2 separate regions of the Homo sapiens genome follow, and region 2 is linked to region 1. The links come from fine-mapping of genetic effects on gene expression. A gene starts in region 1. The other region holds a variant in brackets. All regions are shown on one strand. Distances are from middle to middle.

Region 1 (2,500 bases):
TTATTTCAAGCTTTAAACTCGAGGTTCTGATACAAATTACCCTTCAAGACTTTTCTTTAATCCTAGAATGCCCAACTTCTAGCTAAAATCTTCCACTCTGTTTCATAATTACTGTTCTACCCTTATTATCGTAACCCAGCTACTCATCCCAATAATGCTGCACATCTATACTGGTATATCTGTAACCGTGCAGCACTCTTACCTTCTTGAACCAACAAAATCAGCCTATCTCCGACCTCAAAGTAGGGCAGCAGTAAGGAGGTGGGAATAAACATTTGAAAATGAATATTTCCACTAACTAGTAAATGTGGCCAAAATACTATTGAAAATACCATTCAAAATGCATGAATTTTAGCTCAGTTTTTATATAGTTCTGAAGAAGTACCAATACTATTTTGGCATTTCGTAGCACCAACCACGTCCGAAGCGCTCCAACTTTCAAGTCTGAGCTTGTCTCTGAAGAAGTTGCCCGTGCAGCCTCCATGAATACCACACACCAAATACTAACTGCTTTTTAACAGATCCAGCAACGCTGCTGTTTCCATTTTCTCCATCCTATTTATGCCCACATGAACTTTTTTCTTATTAGATAATTAGTAACTTGAAGGCAGAGACCTGTTTTACAGGCTGCAAACCCCAGGGACCGAGACAGCACTTAACGCCTACAAGGTCCAAACCGACGCCAACGATTAAGCGCACAAAGGAAAGGTGTAATATACATCATTTCGTTTAGTCCTCCCTGCAGCCTCATGTAGTAGTTACTATTAATCAACCCCATTTCACAGGTGATCAAAGGTAAGCTCAGAAAGGTGAAGTTGCCTGCCCAGGTCACAAGGTAGGACCAGGATTCCAAGCCTGATCGGTCTGGATACGAACGCTCTACCCACGCGGCTTTCCCCCTACACTCTCGGGATCACCACACACTTCCCCTTGGCTTTTACACCGGAGGCTCGACCTGGGTCCCGGAACCAGCGAAGCCACTGGGCAAGCCTAGAGGCCTCTACAGAGGCTAGAGACGCCTCGCCCCACCAGATGCATTAGGATGAAACGCGCCGAACCGAAGGTTTAGAGCGCCAGGGGAGAAGAGGGGCGGGGAGAGCAGGCTCTTTGACCCAGAGGAGGGAGGATCTCCACACCCGGCCACTCTGGCGCTGGGGCGCAACACTGAGGCCGGCGGGAAGCCGAGCCTGCCCGCGAAGAGACTGGGGATTCCGAGGCGGCTCCTGGGAGACCGGACGCGCGCGGCCTCCGCCGCTCCCAGTCCCGCCAGACCCGATGCCGGGCTGGAGAAGCGCGGGGGCCGACGCACCTCGGATAGGCGGGGGCAGGGGCAGGGGCAGCTCTCCTTTACCCTAGAGCGGCGACAGAAGCTCTTCGGGGGATCAGTGGCCAAGGGGGCGGACAGATTTGCACGGCGGATTCCTCCGAAGCAACCCGTGTGAAAGAAGCCAAGCGGCGGCTGCAGCCCGGGCCGCGATGGGGGTGACACCGCCCGTGGTCCCGCCCCTTCCCGTGGCCCCTCGGAGCCACTTCCGGCGGCAGCGTCCGGGCTAGTTCCCGGCGCGAGCGGCCGCGGGCCAGTTTCTATCTCCTCATCCAGGGCTTGCGGGCGAGGCCTGTTTTAAGTCTCCAGTAACCGAGCGGAGGCCCGGCAGGCGCGACCCGGGCTGCGTACGTCAGAGCTGCCTCCGAAGTGGTAAAATGTGCTGCGAGAAGTGGAGCCGCGTGGCGGAAATGTTTCTCTTCATTGAGGAGCGGGAGGATTGTAAGATACTGTGCCTTTGCTCCAGGGCATTTGTGGAGTAAGTAGAAAAGAGAATCTCTTCATGTTCTAGCACAGTCATTACCCAGAAATGTAGGTATTGCAAACGTGGTTGTAATTGATCCCTGAAAGCAGCCAGAACATCTGACCCTTGGGCACGGTGATGTTTAAGAAAAACAAAACCCTCAGACATGACGGAGTGGTCGCCCACTGCCATTATTTTTATGTGAAGGACTACATCTACTTGGTAGGCTGCTATGAAAAAATGTCGTAGGTGCTATATGTCATCTCATATTTGTAAATCGAGGGGACATTTAAAAATTGGGGGAAAGCGACATGTAAAATGAAATCTCTAGTAGATATGATGTCATAAAGTGAAAGTTTAAAGTTGAGTGACTTGCTTTGGTTAACGTCTTTTTTTAAACCTAAAAATCTACTTAAGCCCAAATGCACATAATTAAAACTTCAAACTAGTTGAGATAAAAGACTTAACCATATTTACATCAGTTTTTGTGATATCTTTATTTTGGGGAAATCTTTGAATCAGGTAAAAATTGCCCCACATGAAAAATAGCTAGTATGCAGGAATAATACCGCCAAGAGACTTGAATTCTAGGAATTGTTTCCTTTATATTAAATGCGTGAGTTAAACCACTTGAACCTTTTTTTCATCTCTATAACGGGTATATTTAATCTCACATGCTTATTTTGTTAGAGTTAAATCCTTGTGGAAGTGAA
Region 2 (3,027 bases), 48 kb after region 1:
TGATGCCTGATTTTCTGCTGACTAAAAAATATTTTCTTCTTTCACCTCCCAGAGAACTTTTAATTACCAGAAATGTTTTGCCAACTTTGTTTTATTTTCATGTGGTTATTAGTTGGATCTAGCAAAAGAAAAGAGGGACAAAAATAACTAGTGGCAAAGCACTTTCTTGGCCTGTGTGACATTAGGTTTGTAGTCACAGCCAGTATTTCAGATGCTTGCTGCTGCTAGCATTGTATTTGACACAGATCTGAAGGCCACATAAAATGCTCTTTATTTTTACCTGGTACAATTATCTTCTAACCACATTTCTGCGTATCATAGATATAATCTCTTCCATGTAGTAATAGGGCATTTTTCAGCGCTCTGATGTTTCTGTGTCTTTCTTGTAATAAAGTGTATCTGTCATTAGTAATTATTATCTATTCTTCCAGTAGGATGCAGTTGGGAGGTTATTTTCTCTCATTCGGTTATCGTGCACTTTTACTTTAAATCCAGTTTCTCTTGAAAAAATGCAGTTTTGCTCCAGGCGCAGTGGCTTAAGCCTGTAATCCCAACACTTTGAGAGGCCGAGGCGGGCGGATCACCTGAGGTCAGGAGTTTTGAGACCAGCCTGGCCAACATCGTGAAACCCTGTCTCTACTAAAAATACAGAAATTAGCCAGGTGCGCCAGTAATCCCAGCTACTCGGCAGGCTGAGGCAGGAGAATCGCTTGAACCCAGGAGGCAGAGGTTGCAGTGAGCCGAGATCATGCCACTGCACTCCAGCCTGGGCGGTAGAGCCAGACTCGTCTCAAAAAACAAAACAAAACAAAAAAAAAGTGCAGTTTTGAATGTTTACCTTTTTATTTGATGCTTAAATCTTCTGTGCTTTAACACCTTCATTGTGATCTTTTCTGTTTCTCCTTTGCCAGTCCCCAAAGAACAGCTTTACTGCCTGATGTCAAATCTAGTCAAGAGTTCAGTCCTTAATTCTAGTTCTGGTCCAAATTAATTGGGATTTATTTTGGTAAAATTAATATATTTAGGTAATATGCCAAAAATGTGGAAAGTAATCCAGAGCTGCTAATCTTTATCTGTTTGTACCTGCCGTTCTCCCTCTCTCTGTCCTTCCTACCCTCTCTTCCTCTCACAATTTACTAAATTCTAAGAAAGCGGAGGGAACCAAATAATATTTTGTCAGCTAAACCTTCTAGTGAAAAATAAGGACAGCTAGAAATTAATGGCATTCATTAAATTTGCCTGAAGCAAAGTTATTTGCTTGAACTACTAAATTTATAAGTCTTTCCAACTCCAAAATTCTAACTTTTAACATATATGTAGTTGTGAAAATGTGAAAACGTACAAAAAGGCTAAAGTTAGAAATTATTCGTAATCAGAACACTTGAAAGTAACATGTTAAGTTTTTAAAAAAAAATTGTTTCTAAACACTAAGTACATAAGAGTTTTCTCACTATATTTTGTCACATAGATACACCACCTTCTCCATTATCAGGAACAATATTTGTTTTATTTGTCCGTCATCTGACTCTCCCAGCCAGAATGTAAAATTCATGGAGGTGGGGATTTCTTGTTTGTTTTTTGCTATACTGCACTGCCTAGAACAGATACCTATAAGCTCTCAATAATAGTTATTGAGTAAAGTAATTTATGAACT[G/C]TTTTGCACAGACTTCAGAACTCATGATTTCTGAGAAAACCCCCATCTTACCTCCGTTTTTTATTTTAATCCCAAGCACCCACATCTAGACAACCCTCTGAAAGGTATTAAGAAAAACAAAACTACCCTACCTTCTCAGAAATTGGTTTTTATGGAATTCTATTTATGGCTTATATAAGAAATAATAACCATCGGCCAGGCACGGTGGTTCACGCCTGTAATCCCAGCACTTTGGGAGGCCGAGGTGGGTGGATCACGAGGTCAGGAGATCGAGACCACCCTGGCTAACACGGTGAAACCCTGTCTCTACTAAAAATACAAAAAATTAGCCGGGTGTGGTGGCGGGCGCCTGTAGTCCCAGCTACTCGGGAGGCTGAGGCAGGAGAATGGCATGAACCCAGGAGGCAGAGCTTGCAGTACTAGCCGAGATCACGCCACTGCACTCCAGCCTAGGCAGCAGAGCGAGACTCCATCTCAAAAAATAATAATAATAATAACTATATTTATAGTACCTTTATTTTTTTTTTCAAGTAAACTTCAGAAATGGTTTTTCTTTTCTTTAAAATGCTCTTTTAGGGAGATAGACAGTATTCATATTTTCGGATTTAGAAAGCCAAAAAAAGCCTATTTTAATGGCTTTCTTAACAACAACAATATTGGCTTTTTTTTCTTTCTTTCTTTTTTTTTTTGAGGCAGAGTCTCACTCTGTCGCCCAGGCTGGAGTGCAGTGGTGCGATCTCAGCTCACTGCAAGCTCCGCCTCCTGAATTCACGCCATTCTCCTGCCTCAGCCTCCCGAATAGCTGGGACTACAGGCGCCCGCCACCACCCCCAGCAAATTTTTTTGTATTTTTAGTAGAGACGGGGTTTTACCTTGTTTGCCAGGATGGTCTCGATCTCCTGACCTCGTGATCCACCCTCCTCGACCTCCCAAAGTGCTGGGATTACAGGCATGAGCCACAGCGCCCGGCCTAAAAATGGCTTTTTAAATTAATGCAGCAAATTATTGGTAGAACTGGGGATTTTTAAGTTATTTGTTAAAGGGCACAGCAGAAATGCTACATTTGAGTTATATCTCAACTCAAAGAAAAATTATTGTGAAAAAATGATAAACTGTTCAAAATGCCTTTTATTGGCTAAAGACAAAATACCTTTTTTTTTTTTCCCCCTTTCTTGTAAAAAAACCAGACTGGCATAAAGATACCAAAATAGAATTTAAAACATTTATTCCTAATAATTGCTACTCTGAGACTACTTTGCTATTTTTAAATTTCTAGTTTTACTTTAAGTATTCCTTACAAAAAAAAATAGTGGGGGGGGTGCTTTTAATCATTATAAGGAATACTGTATTTGACTTATTTTCACATAATAAGG

Evidence for each region. PIP is the estimated chance that this variant, and not a neighbour inherited with it, causes the effect.
Region 2: its variant is the best candidate, but not a certain one, in a credible set for the expression of TGS1 in regulatory T cells (Schmiedel 2018, PIP 0.55).

Annotation. Positions count from the first base shown.
Region 1 is chr8:55,771,918-55,774,417 of GRCh38, forward strand. TGS1 (trimethylguanosine synthase 1) reads left to right here and starts at 1,529. Exons shown (of 13, transcript NM_024831.8): 1 at 1,529-1,802. The coding sequence starts at 1,702. It overlaps TMEM68 (transmembrane protein 68), which reads right to left and starts at 1,461. Exons shown (of 8, transcript NM_001286657.2): 1 at 1,352-1,461. RefSeq lists enhancers at 363-866, 1,638-1,967 and silencers at 1,088-1,217, 1,308-1,497.
Region 2 is chr8:55,819,745-55,822,771 of GRCh38, forward strand. All of the region lies in intron 12 of TGS1 (trimethylguanosine synthase 1), which reads left to right. Among named protein-coding and RNA genes, the nearest start is that of TGS1, 48 kb to the left of the region's middle. The variant G/C (reference allele first, on the strand shown) is at 1,655.